Linked DNA regions of Homo sapiens. The protein of the gene in region 7 interacts with the protein of the main gene of each other region in a pairwise test. Each region holds a gene or a part of one and is shown on either strand. Other genes may lie near its edges. The genes, in order: ZDHHC17, NECAB2, EFEMP1, SLC2A13, ZNF585B, MAPK8IP3 and RIC8A.

Region 1 (3,500 bases), on a different chromosome or scaffold from region 7:
TTTCAACTCTGACAGTCTATGAAAAACTTGTTTTATTACAGAATTCACATATTAGCCACATTTCATACAGTATTATCAATATAGAATATTTTTACCTTGATATTCTGGGCATCAACATTAGCTCCAGCTTCCAGAAGAAGGCTAATGACTGTGGTATTCCCTGCTAGCACTGCCCAATGCAGAGCAGTGTTTTTGTGATACTTGTCACCAAGGTTAACTGAAACATTGAATGTTAAAAGCAATCTAGTTGGATCCACACTGAAAAGGAAAAAAAAAAAAAACAAACAACAACAACAACCCTAATTTCAATTATAGAAATCATTACAAATACTAAACTGATTATGCTTACAGTAGCATTCCATTTTGGAACACTTCTAACCTACTCAACAACTTTAAAATCAATAATGAGACAATATTCTAATATGAAGTATTAAGTATGTATGACACCATATAAAATAATATATTAATAGTTTCAGGGGATAAGCAACTTGGTCCTGATATTTTCTATTTTTGACCTAGAAATGGCATTAATACTTATACAATTCAAGAATAACACTTTTTAAAATTTAAATTTGGAGTCTTCCAAAAGTGATCTAAGACAACTTACTAATTAATAAATTTGTCAATATGTAAATCACATGAAAAAATTAATTAATTTTTAAAAAAAGATAACTTCTTTTCTTAGATATTGTTAAAAGAGAAACAGATTAAGGAAGCTCTAATCAGTGAGGGAGAGACAGCACAGAGATACCAGAACATCCAAAATGGTAATTTATATATACTATAGTCATAATAAAAACTGTAAATATTAGTGAGTATAGTATTAACTGCTTTTTCCTCTCTCTTACTTCATATTGTATTATGCTGAAATGGCCTAAATAAGTTTTTTATAGTCATTACATACCTATGTGTTCTATATGCTGCCCACATTAAAGGCGTCATTCCATTCTGATCCATCATATCTACATCCTGATAAAGTAAAAAGAAAAAAAGTCAGACAGTTAAATTATAAGTTCCTAACCAAATTTGCTTGGAAAAATCTAATCTATATATAAAAGGAGAAGCGAATATAATACTACTCAATCAAGGATAATGTATGAAACTTTCTTTCTTAACTTTAAAATGAAACTCTTGTCACTATATACTCTAGTGAACATATATCATGCTTTTACATTATTCCCTTTTAAGATGTTTTAATCAGCCTTTCAATGTTTCACATTTAAAATTCTTAACCTATTCTGACCTTTCAACCACAAAGGATAGGTTAAGTGATTAAGTTTCTGAAAAACTTGTTTATACTAATGCATAAGAGAGAACGACAAAACTGTTTATTCCTAGGCATTTCAAAACAAAAAATAAAAAGAACTGACATTTTAATATACTCAGTTTTTACTGTTACACATGTACATTTTTAGAGTTAAATGATTCTGCAGTTTGTGTGGAAAAAGCAACACACTAAAGCAATCCCCCTGCCTTACTTCCCACCATTTTCACCATTTTTTGGCTCATTATTTTTATATTTACCTCCATATCTTTAAATAAGATGTTTGAATTGCTACTTCTTGATTTTTCAGTTTCAGGCATTATTCTGAAATTCCTTGGTACAAAAAATCTGAATTTTTCTCTTTCCTCTCTGCTACATCACAAATGCACGCCTTTCCTATTCTTTCCTCTCAAGAGATCTATTGTAATTCTGGTTCATATAAACATTTAATACTTGATATGTATTATTATAAATATGCATAAATACTATTCCCAGCCAAACCATGTAATAAACCACTATTTTTCCTCTTCTACTCAATTTTTTGCTTTCCCTGGCACCATCTTTCCCCCACTACTACTTAGTTTTTAGCAAATTATAACTAAAACTTCCACCTATTAAACCGAAACTCTTTCCTAGTTATCTAATTCTCCTTGCGCAAGACTTTCTGATGTATCAGGGACTCTTATCAGTTTCAATGCTCTGAAACTACCTTTCCTAACCCACTCCATTCTGAACTGATTATCCTCTATGCCTGAAATGTGTGTCTCATTAACCTGGAGTACTTTGAAAATAAAAATCATCTCAAATCCATCTTCGTATTCTCAGTGCCCAGCAGAGTAGATGATCGAAAACCATTTATTAAAGGAAAAGACATGCTTATCTATCTACTTTTCTAGGCTTGGCTTTAGAATAAGACATGGTTTTGACTTCCTAGCTCCATCATATAATTGCTATGAGATTGTAGGCTAAATTACTTTAATTCTTAGTCTTAGCTTCCTCATTAAAAAATGTGAAATACAAATAACTTCATAAGACTTCTGTGAAGATTAAATAATGTGTGCAAAGCATCTAGTCAACAGCTGAGAACATAATGGATATTCAATAAATATTAAGTTTCTTCTTCTTCTCTACCCCATCTCCCATTCCTGAATTACATTAAGCAAGCAGTTCTAATCCAAGTTGTGTTACCTAATTCACCAATCAGTGGAGAGAGCAGAGAGTTACAGTAAGCACACTGTAAAACACTATCTCTATGCATCAGTTCTCTGTGAGCCACTGTTAGCAATAGGAATATGTCTCAAATGTGAACATTATCTAAGCATATTGAAGAAAAAAAATCTGAGAACCACTACATTAGATAAGTAAAGCATTTCCTTGGATGTCATTAACTTAGTCACTCACCATGCATACTGTCATAGAATGTTATGCCTTATCCATTACAAATCCATTTCTGGATTTACTTTAATAGTGTTGTCAGGAATATCTTCTGCAACCTCACTCAACATTTCCAATATGCAAGTACATTTTTTAAAATAATCCTGTGGCTTAAAAAAAATATGTTTTCTGAAGAAACAACAAACTTCCTTATTTCTTATATGAGAAGTAACTATTGTGACTTCTTTTACTCCTAATTTCCGTAGGACCTCAACCAAATTTCAGGTCTAATTAAAGCAAGCATGTAAATTCTTATGTTTAAGTTTCTCCTTCTTCTTAGTTGTGTTTTCATATCCTTTTTAAAAAATGATAGTATTAAAAATATCAATAAATAAAAAAATGTAAAATCATGGCACATCTCTAGAGTACTAAAAGAAAAATGAAATTCAACCTTTTCTCTCTTTGGGTCGGGATTTAAAACTTGGTACTTCTTTTCCAAGTTCAGCCTGGACGTATGGGTATTCTCTATTAGGAAGAATTAACAAGCCCAGATCAAAAGCTTATGGGAATTCCATGATCAACAGGGCTCCATAACTTAGCATTTTCCCCTTTTTCTCCTGAAAATCATCCAAAAGAATTGGTAGTGAGCACTAAATATATTTAACAATATAACTAAAACAAAACGATTGTGAAGAATAGAATGACAAAACTGAATGGAAATGTTATATACCCTGACAATGTAAAATTGATATAATTAACAACAAAATGGGAAAATGGAAAAAGGTTGAAATGAAAATATGCTGAGAGCCTCATCTATAGTAGCCATGAATCAAAGAAAACTATCTAAAGCTGAAAAATCAAG
Region 2 (3,500 bases), on a different chromosome or scaffold from region 7:
CCACACTAACCAGTAAACTCCAGTACACAGAGAATCATGCCTCATCCAGCTAATTCCCAGACCAATGCCTGTTTACAGATAATCCTCAAACTAACAATAATGCAATAGCTAGCTTTCTTGGGCTCACCATGCACTCAACATTTTCCATGCGTTCAACAAATATAGAGTATCTGCCCCCTGCCAGTGAATTTTCTCTCAATTTACATGGCCACCTGGAGGCAGGTGCTATTTAAGATAACCCACTGTGAGCAACTTGTCCCATGTCACACCATCGGTATGAAGTGGATCCAAAAACCAGCAGCTGGATGAGCCACCACTCCATAGCTTCCAAACGCCAAGTGGTCTCTGCATGCTCCCAACCCCAATCCCAGCCCCTAAGCCCTGACTCTCTCAGCACTGTTCTTAGAGTACAGAAGAACCCTTTCTTCTCCGCCCCATCTATGTGGCAAACTTCAGGTCCTTCCCTGAGGCAGCATGAGATGGCTGCCAATGGCCGGCATGAGGTTCTCAGTTACCTCCTCTCCCAGGCCACAGATGCAGCCATCTAGATGCCAAGCCATGCAGGAAGGAGGTGCCAGGCCTGGAGGTGCCAACGCTCTGGCCAGAGGCTGTGCTTCTGAGGTGGAGCTCCACAGAGGGGCCTCCACAGCTCCTCTGTGGAGGGGCTCTGTGGAGGGATGGGTGGGACACATGCCACCAGTCCCACCCATCGCCTCACCTTTTCCCTTCACTTGCAGTTGCTCTGGGGACACTTTTGGCCCTACCAGGAAGGTCTTGTGGGTTTGGATCAGATTGGGCCACCAGGGGAGGTGGCTTAAGAACATCAGGGACTCTGGGAGGCGGTCCCTAAGCTTCCACCCTCAGCTCCTTCCACCTGAACAGACCTGCTGAGCAAATGCCAGCAAGCTCATCCCCCACCTGCCCTGCAGCCACCTCCCCCCTCCTCAAGGATCTGTTCCTCCTTAAGAGAAACTATGTGAGTGGCATGGAGGTCAGAGACAAGAGGGAGCCCATGACAGTTCCTGGCCCCCAGCCTCTCTGCATAAACCCCTGGCATTACTTCCAGAGGATCTGCATTCAAAGCTGGGTGCTTGGGACAAGGGCCCTGAGAGTCCACATGGCACCTTCCTATGGATTAGAAAAAGACTCTCCTTTCTCTGCCGAGAGGATGAGACCAGTGTCAGTGCACATGTGTTGAAAGCGGATTGCAGCCTGGATTTGAAACCCTCCATTTCCTCGGGTGGGTGCCCTTGTGCAGCGCACAACCTGCCTAACCCGACATGGCAGACGTACTTGGGTTGAGAATGAGTCATTCTTAAACTTTAAAGGCTCCAGTGCTTCTGTCTGTGCTCCCAGCAGCTCTGCTGGAGCTCAACACAGGGTGAGAGCATAAGCTCAGGAGAGGGGGGGTCCTCAGATCTTGCCAAGGTTTCATGCCACCACTTTTCTCTTTAACCCCATAGAGCATAAAGTATCAGAGACCGGTAAAGAATATGAACGTGTGGGCACGGGGGGCTAGGGCCAATATCCCAAGATGCCCCCATCGCAGCTCAGATTTCAAGGTTACAGTGGGAAGAATTTCTGTCTTTCAAAGGAAAGGCCAAAAAAACCCCAATCCAACCACACATGCACAAACCAAAGACCCAAAACCTAACAACTAAAAGTCCGCAAAGTCAGCCACGAGATAAGTGAAATCGAAGTTGTTGCTTTCTGTGTTCTGTGACAGAGGATGCCTTCCGAGTGTCTTCGGCAAGCCTGAAGATAAAACCCAGGAATCCCAGTGTGGAGTCACACCACACGTGGAGTACCTTCCACGGACTCACTCCTTTAGTCTTCTTAACACTCACGACACAGGTAGTACTACCACTTCCATGTTAGAGAGGGGTAAACTGAGGCACAGAGCCCTTAGGGTACTTGCCTAGGTCCTACAGCTGAAGCTTGAACCCAGGCCATCTGGCTCCCAAGTCCAGGCTCTCAACCTAATCCAGGGGTAGGATCTTGTGGCGACATCGCCACCTACCCAGCAGGGGGTGGGTGCTGGCTCAGGCACCCCCACTTTGGGTGAGGGGCAGTCACCATGGGCATGACAGGGGTTGTGAGCCCCAATCCCAGCCTCCCTCTGGCTGGCTCATCTCCCCACGTGCCTGTCCAGGTACCTTGGGCCCCCTCTGCACACAGGGAGAGCAGGCAGCCAGAGACCAGCAAGGTGCCCCCTCGGCACACAGGGAGAGCAGGCAGACAGAGGCCAGCAAGGTGCCCCCTCACTAAGCTTTCGGCTGACATTTATCCTGAACGCCTGATCACGGCCCTAATGAATTCACTAATGAGGAAAAAACATGCCCTACGTAGGCCCCCAGTCCAATTAGACAGGCCAAGCGGGCCCGCGCTGGCACTTTTGCCAGAGACCCCAAGCGGGCCGTTTGCAGGTGTCTTTGCTAATTAGCACAAACTCACTCTCTGTCTCCATGACCTTTCAAATGCCAAGAGCCTGTCAGCCTGTCAGCGTCCATGTCCCTGAAGGGAAATGCTGTCTGCCACTCAGCCCTCTGCCACCCCCTGAGTTTATGTCCCAGGCTGCCAGTCAGGCCCCTCATGCTAACCTTCCCATAGGGACTGGGCATCCGGTATCCAGCTCAGCCAAACAAGTCTCTGTCACAGGAGCCACCCTGACAGGGCAGCCCTGAGCCTTTGTTCCTGTAATCTCTAAGTCCTAAGGGCAGCCTGGGGGGTCCTTTGAGTTTGCACCCCATCTCCCGCTCCCCTGAGGCATCCCATCCATCCTTCCTGTGGACACGTGAGGCAGGGCTAGCGTCAGTGTTGAGCAGTCCTGTGTGTGCTTGTGGGCCTATCGGCCTCCACATCTGCACCCCCTGCACACCTGTTCTCATCCCTGCACACCTGTTCCCATCCCCGCACCCACACCTCCCTGCACACCTGCTCTCATCCCTGCACACCTGTTCCCATCCCCGCACCCACGCCTCCCTGCACACCGGTTCACATTCCCGCACCAACACCTCCCTGCACACCTGTTCCCATCCCCGCACCAACACCTCCCTGCACACCTGTTCCCATCCCTGCACCCACACCTCCCTGCACACCTGCTCTCATCCCTGCACACCTCCCTGCACACCTGCTCTCATCCCTGCACACCTGTTCTCATCCCTGCACCCACACCTCCCTGCACACCTGCTCTCATCCCTGCACACCTCCCTGCACACCTGCTCTCATCCCTGCACACCGGTTCACATTCCCGCACCCACACCTCCCTGCACACCTGTTCCCATCCCTGCACCCACACCTCCCTGCACACCTGTTCCCATCCCCGCACCCACGCCTCCCTGCACACCTGCTCTCATCCCTGCACCCACACCTCCCTGCACACCTGCTCTCATTCTTGGATCCACACCTCCTTGACACCTATTCTCACCCCTACACTCATTCCTCTTTCCCCAGCCATTCTATTCCCACACCACTCCCCTATCTATACCCACACCAAGTCC
Region 3 (3,500 bases), on a different chromosome or scaffold from region 7:
TAATTGCCAGAACAAAGATTCAGACTCAGGTTATCCTGAGGCCACTTGAGCACACTACTTAATTTTAGTTATTAAAGTACCAAAAGAGCCCAGCATAAAGGTTTGTTTTGTTTTGTTTTGTTTTACCACAAGGCAGTGTCACTATATAGCATTACATTGTATATGCATAATGGTTGTTTTAAATTACACATGCCATGTTGAAGTTGTCACAAAGTGTAGAATCATGAATTAATGAAATTTTATTATGCTTCTAAGATGTTAGTCCTACTTAGCAAGTTCTTAGTTGAGCATTTTATAGTTGAAAATATTTATATGAGAAGGACACAGGCTGGAACACTTCATCAAAGTGTCAAAAGAGCACTCTCAAGAGGTAACTTATTTAGCATCCAATTCTTCCACAGTGTTCTTTTATTTGATACACAAAAACGTCCTAAGATACACATGGCAAGCCTTGCTATCCACATCTTATAGAAGAAAAACCAAGATACTGAAGGCGTAAGTGACTTAGCCAAGGTCACCAGTTGAGCACAGCCCACAACTCTTTCTTCTTTGTTTTGTGCTGCACCATGCACTTCAGTAGTTCTTTTTTACTTCTGTAATTATATATAAGCTTTTAGCTCCCCAAACTGACATCTTATATATATATGCAATAGTCTCAATTATTTTGTTTTCTTTAAATCTCAATCCACCCACCAAGTTTATTTACCACTGAATGGCATGAACATTGAGTCTTTGTTCTTAACTTCTTAACTCAGAATACAAAGTATATTTAAAATACATATACCCTAATTTTAACAAAATAGGAAATTATTACTTTTAAAAAGAGATTTTCTCTACATAGGTTTTCTAGATAATGCTTTTCAGAGAATGCTAATTCAATAATTTGGTTCTCTTTGTGTGTGTGCCTGATAACCTAGACATAGATGAATGTACCATCCCTCCATATTGCCACCAAAGATGCGTGAATACACCAGGCTCATTTTATTGCCAGTGCAGTCCTGGGTTTCAATTGGCAGCAAACAACTATACCTGCGTAGGTAAGCCTTTTGAGAACTTGCTGATTTCTGTCTTCACAAAAGGAAACCCCATGCCATGTTGCAGTATTTCCAGTTTTCTATGTTCTTGAGTAAATAGTTTCCATCGACTTCCCTTCAGCAATCATAAAGCTTAAAAGATAATAACCAATCTGTGTCTTAAAACACATCAAGATGTGAACAGAAAACTTTTTAACTTTGGTTTTAGTTCTCCTCTGTGGATAGATCAACAAATTTAAAACTACAAATCAATTGATATACATACACCAGTCAATCAGCAGTGTGTGATATAATGCTGAAAGTGCCAAAGGGGTTACTACAAGTTCAAGTATATAAACTTTCCACTGAAAGTGCATCTGATTTTTACATGCCTCTTCTCCCCTTTCAGAATGCAATGTCACGGCACACAATTAAAAGATTGGCATGACATGGAAAAAATCTAGTGTAGGAAAAATGCCTTTTCACAATATTTTCAGTGCTTTAGAGCATTGCAAAACTCCGTATGGGTCTCAAAGGCTTATGTTATAATTGTAATGGAATTTAACAGAACCCATTTAAAAAGTAATAAATAGCACAGATAAATCTTCAGTACAGCATGCTGAGAGACCATATCAGTATAAGTGTCTTATATCAATTATTTATAGAATTGGCATTTTGTATCTGAACAACAAAAGAAAATCGATACCGGAGTGTATATTTATTAGAAGCATTAAATTCCTTTGGAAAGATTCATCAAACATCAAACTAACTGTCATTCCTAGAAAAAATATTTCGGTATTTCCAAAAGAAGTATATGACAGACGTTTGTAGTTGTTCCAACAAATATGAAACCTAAATGGATGTTCTCCAGTGAGCTTCTGCAGGGCAAATAATTCAGCTAGGGAATTACTCACTTGTCAGCAGATGACGTAGGTACAAAAGAGTAAGGATATGTTTAAAGTCTATATATATATGTGTGTGTATATATATACATATACATATATATATATATAAAACTTTTTTTCAGATATAAATGAATGTGATGCCAGCAATCAATGTGCTCAGCAGTGCTACAACATTCTTGGTTCATTCATCTGTCAGTGCAATCAAGGATATGAGCTAAGCAGTGACAGGCTCAACTGTGAAGGTAAAACTCTTCCCAGATAGTATGGAATAAAGTCCAATTCCTGTGACTGCTGTTGTTTTATCTGATTATGTACCCATTTATGAAAACAAACGCTTACCCATGGGAATTCTGTTCTAAAATCCAGTTAATGTAGTTCAGTTGTTACATTGCCTTTTTAGTGTGTTACCAAGAAAAAGGAAAAGAAATAAAAATAACTGAAATATTAGGTGCAGGCTGGCTCTAATAATTAGAAAGGGTGCTCTAGCATGTTGCGTCTCAGTGTGTTATCCAGTGACCAGGTATGTCAGCACCTCCTGGGAGCTTATGAGAAATGCAGAATCTCAGGCTGCAACCCAGACCTCCTGAGTCTGAATCTACATTCAACAAAAACTGCAGGTGACTGGTGTGCACATTTAAGTTTCAGAATAGCCAAGTGCATGTCAAAACATTAAAATAAAAATCAGGAGATCTGGTTTCTGGTTCTATTCCTGCTACTGTGTGACTTGGGCACATTTCTTGAGTTGCCTGGGTTTCACTTTCCACATGAACAAGAGGAGGGCCATTTAACTAGATTCATGACCTTCAGGGTCCATTGCATGTGCACATTTCGTTATATAATTCAAAAGGCATTAGACATCCTGAGGGGGATGCCACAGACACTTGATGTCCCTGACCTCCTCACGGTTCACTCAGCTTTACACAAAGCTCAAACCCCACCGAGAGAGGCCTCACATCATGCCATTACACTCAAAACTGAAAGAGGCTACCTCAGGACAGCTGCCTCTGCCCTTCTGAGTAAACTGTAGGGACATCACTATTCAGAAATGCAAAGCATTCTTCCCCTGAAAGTCAGATCCTGCCAAGCTGTCATTCTGGAAGCTTGCACAGGTTAGGGGACTTGGCATTCAAAGCTCAAATGAACTTGGCTTCAAAGTCACCCAATTTCTGAGAAGACAAACATGAACTCTACATCCTGGATGGGTCTGCAGAGTCCAAAATGAAGGCCGTCAACCACAAGCCAATTCATTCAGTAGTGTAGTTAGGTCCAGGATTAGCCAAATTGTCAGCAATGATTCAGTAAAAGTCATGATAAGAAAAACTTTTTGTGCTATGAAGTCATAGAGGGAAATAAGCTGATATTGTTAGAATTTGCCTTTTAGCTGCTTATAAAGTTTTGTATTTCTATTTCAGAATTTGCAATATTTTTACTCTCTTTAGCTCACCTCAAAAGTGTATTACTTCCTCTGGACTGTTGAGCAGAACAAAAAAAATATATATGTGTGTGTGTGTGTGTGTGTGTGTGTGTGTATATATGAAACCCAGGCAACTTAAGAAATGTGCCCAAGTCACACAGTAGCAGG
Region 4 (2,778 bases), on a different chromosome or scaffold from region 7:
TTAATATGGTAGGTCAAATCACATCATATATAAATTGTCCTACAAAATATATATTTGATGATACTACAAATGGAATGTTTCCAAGTTGATAGTGGTAGCCAAATATGCTGGGAACTTAAAAGGTGCCTAATATAAAAAAACCTGCAAAATTTAAACATTTAATTTTTAATATACTATAAATGTTCACCAAATCTAAAAATAATACCCTAATTGTATAAGGTTCCTTTTCAAGTAATTGTTTCTAAAAAGTTATAAATAATTCTTATACTGTGCCTCTCTGTCTTATACTTCAAAGATATGGAATATTATCTTTAACACTATATAAATAACAAATAGTCCTTTAAAGTAGGGGCTCAGGGGAGTAGGGGAGGAGAACTGTGGCTAATTTTCCCTGTTATTATGTGCATTTATGGTTATAAAGTTGAAAACATTGTTTTCTTATATCAGGGAGAACAGGCCATGTTCTGCTTTAGGAAATAACAAGAGTCCAGTTTCTCCTTTAATAAAGTTACTGTGCATCAGCCCAGCTGAGTTTATAAGTATATAGTTAGTTAAGGCTACATATACAATAAAGAGAAGGATTGAGGCAATTATTTTGATTAAGTCCAAAAAATAAATTTTTAGAGAGCACTTTATTGGTCTACTTTTTCTCCTTATTATATTTTGATTGTACCATATAGTAGCTTATTTTTCACTTCAATTTACCTGTGTAAAATATTAGATAAGAAATTTCTTATGAGATAAGAAATATCAATAGAATAATAATTTTCCCTATTAAATCATATCTGCTTTTCTGAGGAAAAAATCAATACTAATATTCCCTTGGAAATCAATTGTTAAAGCACCTAATTCAAGGAAAAAACCTCTATAAAATATTAATTTTTTTTATTATATGAAATGACCAAAGGGAGAAAACGTTTTTGTTTTTGGTTAATGGATTTTTAGGGCACTAAATTGACAGTTTAAGCACATATTATACCTCTGGTGACTTAGAGAATGAACTTCCTCAGCTGTATTCTCAGCTTGATAACTGTGATAGGAACAAGCCAGACATTAAAAGAATAGAGTATCTTGGAGACTGGAAGAAATATTTTGAATATGGAGATAGCCACCTTTTCTCTCCAAATACAGTACCTTATTAGATGTTTAGAGCCATTTAAAAATGCATCAAACTGATGTATTCCTAACTGGCCACAGAAGATTCATTCATATTTTTCCTGGAACTAGCAAGTAATTTTGTGATCAAGTAATTTTGTACATACTATATAGTTCTTAATAGAAAAGCAAAAATTAAGAGTTCAGTGATGAATTACCATAAAAACCAATGAATACCTTGGAAAGACATTGTGGAAATATAATTAAGCCTGCATTTCTTATAGACGTGCTATATTAGAACCAATTATCTGTTCCAATAGGCAATCTCAATTTTTACACAAGAAGGAAAAACTAAGCCAAGAATAAGAAAAACACAGAGACAAATCTATGTATCTTTTTTTTTTCTGGTAAATTCTCAGGAAAATGAGAAAAGTGTGCAAAATAAAAACGAGTTTATGCTCTTAAAGTAAAAAAAGACAAGTACAATTAAATAATAATATGTGACATTTCCCTTAGGAAGAGCTAATAAAAAGTTAAGAAAAAAGTCCCATTATTTTTATTAAACAAACACCAATAACAGCAGGATTATTTCTGCCACTGATTTCCTTCCTCTTTTTTGTTTCAAAAATTATTGTTTGAATAAAAGAAAGGGGAAAAATGGTTTGCTTGCAGCTATGTATGTAACACAAATGAAGGCACGAAATAGTAGGACTCCAAGGCCAATGAGGAAGGTGTAGTGATTTGGGCATGAACAAAAACTGACCCTGATATACAGTTAAAGATCTGGCACTATTTTGCATTTATAATTGCATACCTAAGTGACTAACCAATTTGGAACCCATAAAAACCTTTAATCTGTTACTTTCTGAACATAAAAGGTACTTCTCAAAACTTCCTAGCTCATCTGCGCAAATGTATGCCTTATCACTGATGCAAAAAAAAGAAGTATGAAAACAACCCGACAGATTATATTTTCATAATGTTCAAAAGATAGTGTGCAGAGTCAGTATCTGAAGAACTCCCAATATCTGAATTGGAGAGAAACAAAAATATGGAATCCAAAGGAGATACGGACAGCTGTGCCCTTGTAGGAGGCACTTTGGAATTTGTTGATGAAAGCTTACATGGAATTTAGTTTGTAACAGCTGATCAGAGATAAGCCACTACTCTGTAGGAAAACTGAGGGCCAATAGGCCATCTTTTGACACAGAACACCCTTGGACCATCTCCCAGAATCCTTTATAAATATATTATACATATGTAATTTGGCTAGATTAGCACTGACTCTGTTGCCACTAATAATTATAAATGGTCTTAGGAAAAAAGGATACCACTGAAGTCACTGGGTACAATATTCATTTTAGACTATTTCAGGAAGGCATTACACACATTTGCTTAAGAATTATTAGATTAAAATCTCTGTAAATATTTTTTAAAATATTGTTCCTTGTGGAAAAAAAAAGTCATCATGGTTGTATCTTCCTCCTAATCAAGTATTCTAGAATATGAAGTCAATCAAAACTAGGCTGTGGAAAGAACCAGATTAGAAGCAGGGCAGTGAAGTCACCAATTGCTGTTCTTCTCCCCCCAGTTTGTTTAAATAACTAAATATATGAGCAGCTGAAAATTATTCCACATCAGAAGCATCATTGTCAGAAAGATGATAGTTACTTCCCTTTACCC
Region 5 (3,500 bases), on a different chromosome or scaffold from region 7:
TGTTCTCCACAGTTCTGAAAGTGTGGTTCTTGTACCAGCAGCATCAGCATTTCCTGGGCACTTATTAGAAAATAAAATTCTTAGGGCCTACCTTAGACCCATCGAAGGGGTGAAGTTGAGAATTTTAAACTATGTTTTAACAAGCCCTCCAGGTGACTTGAATGCATACCTACGTTTGGGAACCACTGCTCTGGTTTCTAGCGCAGGGACCTGCACCTTGGTGTATCCAGGAAGTGTTTATGTAGTGAATGTTGAATGACTACGTGGACATTGTTTTTCTAGGTTCTTGGGTGTCTCTGGGGAGTCCCTGGGCCAGACCTTCCTCCAGACTCCAGCCCACCTCTTCGGAGCAGCTCTGCTGAGTTCACAGATGACCACTAAACTTCAGGCACCCTAGACAAAAAGGGTTGAGATCCAGTGTGGCCATGCCAGCTAGTTGGACCTCACCCCAGAAATCCTCAGCCCTGGCTCCAGAGGATCATGGCAGCTCCTATGAGGTGAGGAGGAGGAGTCCCAAGGGGTGGAATTTCAGTCCAAGAGTAGATAGCTCTAATCTGTCACCACAGCCTTAGGGCAGAGGCAGACAGGCCTTAGGAACCAGCTGGACTCTAGACTTGGTGCTCCTGAAAGAAAACTTGATCTTCCTGTCAAGAATGAACACGTGGGTAATGTCTCCGTCTCTGGAGGCCACCTGTGTGACAGTGGAGAGGTGCACTGTCAAGGAAAACTGTTGTTGATTTTGTCATCACGCTATATTGATGTTTTGGCTGCAAATAGAATTCCTTGTTAGAAGTGACTTTTGTTTGAGATTTTGAAAGCATTTTTTCATTTCTTCCTAAACCACCTCCTCAAACACAAATGTTTTCTCTGTTTTCTTTCTGAAACTTGTTTTTCAGATGTTGCTTCTCCATTTCTTTTCTCTACTATTTTCTATGTATTTCCTGCTATCCATTCTGGGTAACTTTGACACCTTTTGCCTTCCAGCCCTTCTATTGAGCTTCTCATTACCACTATCCACATTTTAACTTAATGTTTTAATTTTTAAAAACTCTAGTTTGTTTCCTAAAATTTTTTTTTTTTTTTTTGAAACAGAGTTTTGCTCTCATTGCCCAGGCTGGAGTACAATGGCATGATCTCGGCTCACTGCAACCTCCGCCTCCTGGGTTCAAGAGATTCTCCTGCCTCAGCCTCTCAAATAGCTGGGACTACAGGCATGTGCCACCTCGTTCGGCTAATTTTGTATTTTTAGTAGAGACGGGGTTTCTCCGTGTTGATCAGGCTGATCTCGAACTCCTGATCTCAGGTGATCTGCCCACCTCAGCCTCCCAAAGTGCTGGGATTACAGGCATGAGCCACTGTTCCCAGCCTGTTTCCTAAATTTTTTTTTATTGCCATCCCGTTCTTATTTCATGGATGTAATGTTATTTTTTAAATTATTTATTTATTTATTTATTTATTGATGGAGTTTTGCTCTTGTTGCCTAGGCTGGAGTGCAATGGCATGATCTCCGCTCACTGCAACCTCTGCCATCCAGGTTCAAGCAATTCTCCTGCCCCAGCCTCCTGAGTAGCTGAGATTACAGGTGCGAGCCACCACGCCTGGCTAATTTTTGTATTTTTAGTAGAGATGGTGTTTCACCATCTGGGCCACGCTGGTCTCGAACTCCTGACCCTCAGGTGATCCACCTGCTTCGGCCTCCCAAAGTGCTGGGATTACAGGTGTGAGACACCATGCCCGGCCTGGGTGTATTGTTATTTCTTATCCATCTGAAGATATTGTGATAATTTATTAGGAATAGTTTAATCTTTTGAATAGGCAATGCATATACCTAGTTCAAAAGTTAGAAATATATGAAAAGCAATATATTGAAAAGTATTATGGTGAAAGAGATGGGACTGTGGTTCACCCACCTCTGCCTTCCATCTACCTGTGTCTCCCGGTAGTGATAACCTGCTTTATTCATTTTCTTTGATTGCTTAGTTCTGTATACAAATGAAAACAACTACAATTTTTTTCTCTTGATTTCAGAATGGCATAGCAGATTAACTTTTTTGTACATTGCTGTTTTAATGTTTGTTTGGTAAAATACAGAAACTATTATGAACAATATCGCAGTGGATATTGTCATGCCTTCTCTTTCTATTGGATATATTAGAAGTAGTGGAATTTCATTTCAGGGTTCTAGTCACGTGGTGAGAGTCTCATCTGCACCTCAGTGAACCTCTACTTTAGTTGCTCTTGGGCAGTTTTAGGATTGAGTATCTTAATAATTTTATTCTAGAAGATAGGAAGGATAGCTTGAGGCTAAAGTTACAGTTGGTAAAGCAGCAGCAGTTGGCTGGGCACGGTCGTTCACACCTGTAATCCCAACACTGGAAAGCCAGGGTGGGAGGATGGCTTGAGGCCAGAAGTTCAAGACCAGCCCTGGCAATGTAGTGATTCCCTGTCACTACCAAAAAAAAAATTTAATTAAATTAAAAATTAGTTTGGGCCTGGTGCGGTAGCTCACACTTATAATCCCAGCACTTTGGGAGGCTGAGGCAGGCAGATTGCCTGAGGTCAGGAGTTCGAGACCAGCCTAGCCAACATGGTGACGCCCCGTCTCTACTAAAAATAAAAAATATTTGTCAGGCATGGTGGCGTACGCCTGTAATCCCAGCTACTCAGGAGGCTGAGGCAGGAGAATCGCTTGAACCTAGGAGGCAGAGGTTGCAGGGAGCTGAGATTGCACCACTGCACTCCAGTCTGGGTGACAGAGTGAGCCTCTGTCTCAAAAAAAAAAAAAAGAAAAACAATTAGTCTGGCATGGTGCTGTGTGCCTATAGACCCACCTGCTCGGGAGGCTGAGGCAGGAGGATCACTTGAGCCTAAGAGTTCGAGATTACACCTAGCTATGAGCATGCCACTGCACTCCAGCCTGGATGAAAGAGATAGACTTTGTCTCAAAAGAAAAAAGCAGCAGTCTCTTGCATTAGGCAGAATAAGGAGACTTTTATTCACTTTTGTGGTTTGAAGAATGTTCTGATTTTTGTCTATGCTCAAATATAACGACAGAGTGGTCTTGGTATCATCTTACACCATGATGGTCAGAGATTGGTCTTGTTTGCTGTTGGTGTTCTAAGAGATTGTTTTTGTGTAGCACCATGGAGAACACCATGAATTAGCTGGCCCTTGCCAGGTTAGCTTCTAGCAACACTGAGGCTTAATTGATAGTACGAGGCTAACTCTCAGAGGTTAGGACTGCTTTTGTCCTCATTTAAAAATAAGAGAGTGAGCCAAAAGAAAGCTAGGGCTGCAATTTAGGAACAGATCAAAAGGGATTTAAGATGAAAATCACCTAAAGGGATGAAAACATGTTGTTCATCCTTATGAAAAGAATCATGTACAAAGAATTATACAAATTATTAGCATTTTTTTAATTAATAATGTATCTTTGAACTATTTTAAGTAAAAATGAACAGAAATCATTAAATGCAATATTGGCCATTTTATCACACTAC
Region 6 (2,829 bases), on a different chromosome or scaffold from region 7:
CCCGTCCGGCCTCCCCCTGTTCAGCCTGCGTGGTACCCGTGCCGGAGGTCTCTTTCCCACGCTCACACGCGCCTCTTCCGCGCAGGAACCTGATTCACGGCAGCGACTCGGTGGAGAGTGCCCGCCGCGAGATCGCTCTCTGGTTCCGCGCAGACGAGCTCCTCTGCTGGGAGGACAGCGCTGGGCACTGGCTGTATGAGTAGCCCGGCAGATGCGCGTCACAGAGGCTCTCACACTCCAGCCTCCTCCAGGGCCCAGGTGGGCGGGCTTCTGGCCCCACCCCACAGCGCTTGGAGCATCCCTTTGGACGGGCTGCTGAACATCCACCTGTCTGGACGTTGCATGGAGGGTGGCGCAGGCCTCTCCAATCCCTGGCGTACAGGGTTTCCTGCCCGAGGAGCTGCTCCAGGAGCCTGCGCGGCTCGCCTGGAAACGTGCCAGGACACTGTCCTGGTGCCCAGCCCAACGTGGTCCAACGTTTTTTTATAATAAAGTCCTCGTTTTCGTTTCGATTTGGGCCCAGGAACAGGCAGCTACGACGTTAAGACATTTATTACATACAGAGCAGATATGTGGGTTTGCTTGCAGGGCCAAAGCCTGAGGAGAATCGTCACCCCTCCCCCAGCCGCCCCACTGCTCAGCCCGGAGTCACTTCGAGATCCTGGGGGAACAGACGAGGGAGCGGACATACATCACAGTGGAGGTGGCAGGGTGGTGGGGAGAAGCCGGCAGCGCAGCGGCTGCAGCCCTCGGTGGCCAGCGGGGCTTGTGGGGCAGCTCCCCAAGATCTGTGCTTCTCTGGTTGGGGGTGGGTGCGGGGGCTGGGCTGCCCTCATAAGGGCCTCCCAGACAGGAGTGCAGTGGGCCTGGAAGGTAGGAATAGGCCAGAGAGGCCCAGCTGGGCAGGGAGAGCAGTCCAGGGTGGCGTCTGCCCTCTGCGGGCTTGGAGTCGGCTGGGGGCGGCTCCATCCTCAGCCCCACGGGCCTCTGCTTGGTGGCCTCTCTGTTGCTCCCTGGAAGCAGGCCACAGCGGGCAACCCTAGGCACTTAGTAGCGTGTCTGGGAGCTGGGCTCCGTGGAGCCCCGTGCAGGAGGCAGGCCCCGGGAGCACATCATCCCCCATCAACCTGAGGCTGAGCCTGTGTCCTAGGACTGATCCCGGAGAGGCCAGGGGCCTCCCCTTCTTCCTGAGGCCTGGGCCTGCCCTGGCAGCCTGAGAAATCCCACCCTGGGGGCTTCTGGGAGGGACAGGACTCCAGGGCCCACTCCTCCAAGGTGAGTCTTCTGCCCAGGCAGAGCCTGGGGGGACACGGGTCAGAACGGGGCTGGCAAGAGCCTGCCTGCATGGGCAGGATGGGGTAGCAGTCTCTGTTCTCAAGCAGCTGCCCCAGGGAGCCGGGCCTCGTGCTTTTATGCCAGCTCCCTGGGCAGGGGACAGCTGGGGTGGGGACAGACAGGATAGAGGCTTGACGACGGGGAGGCCCCAGAGAAGGCCGGCTGGGGTGCAGGCACCTGGGCAGCCTGAGGCCCACCTCCCTGGGCAAAGGCTAGTGCCTGGCCCAGCTCCCCTAGGCAGAGTGAGGGCCCAGGAGGCAGGGTGGCCCCATGAGCAGCATGCAGAGGTGGGCCCAGGGCAGGCAGCCTCGGCGGCGGGGAGCCCCTGCCTCCTCCAGGGGTGCTGGGGAGTAGGAGGCCCAGGGTAGAGCCAGGACCACCTCGGATTCTGCCTGCGCTGGGCCCAAGGTGCCCTGGACTTGAGGACTCTGGGCTGGAAGCTGGCCAGGAGCTGCCCGGGAAACTGTCCCGAGAGCATCTTCCCCTCGGGTGGAAGTTCCCCTCCCCTCCTCCTCCCAGCTGATCCGCATCCCCGCACTCCCTGCCCGCTGGAGGGGCCAGACTCAGGTGAAAGCTGCAGGTTGAGAGGTTAGAAGAGGGGCGGCGGCGCCTGGCTGGCTACCCCGCGGGCCGGGCGGGGGTCAGGTGGTCGGGGGTCCTATGTACAGGTCGGGCCAGGCAGGGCAGCAGCTTCACTCGGGGGTGTAGGACACCTGCCACACGATGATGTGACTGCGCTCTGCCTTGGACAGCACGGGCTTCACCTGGCTCATGTCCCCTGCGCCCTCCTCCGTCTCGTCGTCCTCTCCGTCTCCTGCGGGCAAAGCAGCAGAGTGACGGCCAGGCTCCCCCCGCGCCCAACCTCAGCCCTGTCCCTGGGCCCCGCTCACCAATGCGGAAGTCGATGTAGCCCTCCCCGCCGCTCAGCACCAGCACGTTCCGCAGCTTCTGGCCCTCGACCTCCGAGGCAGGGGCAGCTGGCCCAGGGCCCTCGGCTGGGCTGTCCAGCACACTCCCATTCAGGGTGGCCAGCACGTTCCCTGGGATGGCAGAAGCGATTCAGGACAGCGGCCTCCTGGGGGAGGCGGCGGCCACTGGCATGCAGGGGATGTGGATGGCAGGAGGGGCCCAGCCTCACCTGGCACCGAGACAAAGAACTTCACGGCATCGCGGTGCCCATGGAAGCATAGCTGGGCCTGGGCCATGGAGCAGTAGGGGATGAAGCTGCTGGCCGCCCTGTCACTGCTGTCATCGCCATACACGTGGATGATGCCCCCGGGACGGGCGCCCTCCCCAGAGGTGGGGGATGTCTTATTGGCTGCAGGGAGAGAACCCAGAGGCGCTGAGCCCGCATACAGGTGGAGAGTGGGAGAGGCTCCCGTGAGGGGACACGAGGTGGCTGGGCTTACCTCGGAGCCCCAGGAGCTGGCCTCGGTGCAGGACCACAGCTGGGGACATGGGAGGAGCATGGGAGAAGAGGAGAGCGGTCAGCGT
Region 7 (2,453 bases):
CCAGCTCCTGCCATCTGCCACCTTCTGGTATCCCAGATAGCACTTAGGAACAGGTGCTTGATTCTGGAAGCTCTTGCCCATTTGTCATCCTGTCCCACCCTACAGGGGTCCACATGGGTGTGGAAGCAGGGACTATGGGGCTGTGAGTGGAGACCCGAGGGTGTGTTGGGGGTACACACCTGGCTTTGGCTTCCTTGTACTCATCTGTGTCTGTGTCCTCATCCTCTGAGTACTGGCCCTCGGGCCGGCCTCCTGCCATGAGGCCCCTGGCAGCCAGAAGGCCAGCAGCATTCCCATAGCCTGTGTACTTGATGAATCGGGGCACTGAGGGGCAAGGCAGAGGTCAGTGTGCAAGCCTGGCTGAGGTGGGGTGGGCTGGGACCTGGGTCTCCATAACTCACCACTCTCAGAGCACAGGACAAACAAGAACTCGGCAGCCACCCTCTTCACATCTGTGTCCAGGTGTGTCATGAGGCGGACAAGCTTGTTCCGCAGCATCTCCCCAACCTCAGGCCGTGTCCTCACATCCCGCAGAGGGGGCAGCACCTGGGGAGGTGGCCATCCCTAAGCTTGGGCTTAGAGCAGCCAAGGGTCTGTGATCAGGGCCGAAACCACATCCCCCAGGAGCACCAGCTCCTCAGCCTTATACCTGGGCCTTCAGGAACTTCCTGGCTGGGCGGTGCATCCGGGCACATTCAGTCAGCACGCTCAGCACGGGAGCTACACTCTCCTTCAGCCTGTGTGTCTGTAGAGGATTCTCTGTCACTGGGGCTATGCCCCTGCCTAACTTGTGACTGGCACAGAGTTACACCTCCCCACCACCCCTTCCCACCAACATACACAACAGCTGGTCCTGGCGGCAGAGGTTTGGGAAGAGGCCCCTCTGCAGTTAGTCAGCAGAAGGCCAAGAGTGGGTGGTGGGTGTCTGTGTCACTTTTGAAAAGGACAGGGATAGAGCGTAACTCAGAGGTACTCGTAAGCTTTGTGACTTGGGAGAAATAACTGCTTTAAGTCTAATTACTTCAACTATAAACCAGAGCTGGGAAGAAAACACAAAGCAATTAAAGCTTTAGACTCGCACACACATTGCCCTCAGATGTTGGTGGCAAAAAGAAACGAGAACCGAATCCCCGCTCTGTGTACTTCGTGGACAGAGCAGGGAGTTCTTGACCCTCCTAGCATAATGTGCCTGGACCCCAGCACCAGCAGTGGCAGCGACGGGCACAGACAACCCCCTAGCTGTGTGTCCAGTGCCAGCTCCCTATCCTGACTGGCTCGCAGGCACCTTGTGTGTCCCTTGCTTAGGCAGGTAGATTCCCAGGAGGTCTACTAAATCTCGGTTTATTGTACTCCAGCCTGCTTTCTGCAAGCTCCTGGAAGATGGTTAGAGCCCCAGCTGTCCAGATGCCCTGTAGTGCAGTCACAGCAATCAGAAGGAAGCTTTGATCTGAGGTTCCTATGGGTCTCCTCAGGATGCTGAGGGACAACTATGCTTGTAATCAAGGGCTGCCTGTGTTTAAGACTTAAAAGTAGGGACTGGGGGGCTTCTCTGGACCACTCAGTAAAGATCCCCAAAGATTTAAGAAGTGAAACCTTCAAGTGTGTGGAAGGTGTCCACATGCTTCTCATGGAGGAAGGGTCTGGCTTCTTGCCAGGCTGGACCACAGAACAACCGGAAGAGTCGCCCATATCACACCACCAAGACAATCTCCACGTACCAGTGTGGACAGTGTGGAAGCACTGACCACATCTGTGCAGGAGAACCAGTGCCAGAGCCACTGGGGGAGCCTGCACAGCCATCCCCAGCCTACCTTGTGCAAACGCTTCTCTAGGAAGATGAGGAGGGCACGAATCACATCCATATTCACTCCCATGAACTCCGTGGAGTCTCCATGTGGCTCCAGGGTGAGGAGAACATCCAGACACTTGAGGGGCAAGTTCCCCAGGAGGTTCACTGCGTGGCTGGGGACAGATGGAGGTAGGGGTTTCAACAGGGCTAATCCCTGAGCACAGGTGCAATCTTTGTGACTCCGCTGAACCACACATTACATGAGCTGGCATCTGAGTCCCAAAGGGGCAGCGCTAGGGACCAAAGCCAAGGGCAGGGACTGATCTGAGAGGCACTGCCACTCAGCTGTACAGTGGGGTCCCCTGGGGAAGTGGGGGCACTGAGACACACTGCCTCCCCGACCCTGTCTGAGCCAAAGCGCCAGACCATCTCTGGAAACCCAGACCAGCCTAGGGGCAGGTAGACCAAAAACGGGGACAAGGAACCAATGTGCCCTAGTAAGTACCATACTGTTGCCACTACCCAAGGCCCAGTTGGCACATTCCTGCCCCCAAATTCATGGCTATGTCCAGTCTCACTCACCCAGACAACGTCAGACTCTCTAGGGTGGGGCCTGGGCTCTCAGGTGGTTCTGGTTCAGAGCCGGGGTTGAGGACGACCATCT

What was found.
Region 1: the proteins of RIC8A (region 7) and ZDHHC17 interact in a two-hybrid assay, tested with the Homo sapiens proteins (one large-scale study listed by BioGRID and IntAct).
Region 2: the proteins of RIC8A (region 7) and NECAB2 interact in binary tests that used the Homo sapiens proteins (3 or more experiments, as listed by UniProt).
Region 3: the proteins of RIC8A (region 7) and EFEMP1 interact in binary tests that used the Homo sapiens proteins (3 or more experiments, as listed by UniProt).
Region 4: the proteins of RIC8A (region 7) and SLC2A13 interact in binary tests that used the Homo sapiens proteins (3 or more experiments, as listed by UniProt).
Region 5: the proteins of RIC8A (region 7) and ZNF585B interact in a two-hybrid assay, tested with the Homo sapiens proteins (one large-scale study listed by BioGRID and IntAct).
Region 6: the proteins of RIC8A (region 7) and MAPK8IP3 interact in a two-hybrid assay, tested with the Homo sapiens proteins (one large-scale study listed by BioGRID and IntAct).

Annotation. Positions count from the first base shown.
Region 1 is NC_000012.12:76,812,615-76,816,114, reverse strand, and holds part of ZDHHC17 (palmitoyltransferase ZDHHC17), read right to left. Parts: intron 970-3,500; coding exon 905-969; intron 259-904; coding exon 96-258; intron 1-95. UniProt on the Homo sapiens protein: Palmitoyltransferase that catalyzes the addition of palmitate onto various protein substrates and is involved in a variety of cellular processes.
Region 2 is NC_000016.10:83,974,744-83,978,243, reverse strand, and holds part of NECAB2 (N-terminal EF-hand calcium-binding protein 2), read right to left. Parts: intron 1-3,500. UniProt on the Homo sapiens protein: May act as a signaling scaffold protein that senses intracellular calcium.
Region 3 is NC_000002.12:55,875,283-55,878,782, reverse strand, and holds part of EFEMP1 (EGF-containing fibulin-like extracellular matrix protein 1 precursor), read left to right. Parts: intron 1-917; coding exon 918-1,037; intron 1,038-1,097; exon of another isoform or gene 1,098-1,166; intron 1,167-2,040; coding exon 2,041-2,160; intron 2,161-3,500. UniProt on the Homo sapiens protein: Binds EGFR, the EGF receptor, inducing EGFR autophosphorylation and the activation of downstream signaling pathways. May play a role in cell adhesion and migration. May function as a negative regulator of chondrocyte differentiation.
Region 4 is NC_000012.12:39,757,304-39,760,081, forward strand, and holds part of SLC2A13 (proton myo-inositol cotransporter), read right to left. Parts: coding exon 2,723-2,778; 3' UTR 1-2,722. UniProt on the Homo sapiens protein: H(+)-myo-inositol cotransporter. Can also transport related stereoisomers.
Region 5 is NC_000019.10:37,204,037-37,207,536, reverse strand, and holds part of ZNF585B (zinc finger protein 585B), read left to right. Parts: intron 1-282; 5' UTR 283-425; coding exon 426-497; intron 498-3,500.
Region 6 is NC_000016.10:1,768,023-1,770,851, reverse strand, and holds the end of MAPK8IP3 (C-Jun-amino-terminal kinase-interacting protein 3), read right to left. Parts: intron 2,784-2,829; coding exon 2,745-2,783; intron 2,654-2,744; coding exon 2,474-2,653; intron 2,376-2,473; coding exon 2,226-2,375; intron 2,150-2,225; coding exon 2,028-2,149; 3' UTR 501-2,027; downstream 1-500. Other genes in the region: NME3 (nucleoside diphosphate kinase 3), read left to right, coding at 86-203.
Region 7 is NC_000011.10:210,708-213,160, reverse strand, and holds part of RIC8A (chaperone Ric-8A), read right to left. Parts: intron 1,963-2,453; coding exon 1,812-1,962; intron 746-1,811; coding exon 650-745; intron 565-649; coding exon of another isoform or gene 547-564; coding exon 402-546; intron 325-401; coding exon 180-324; intron 1-179.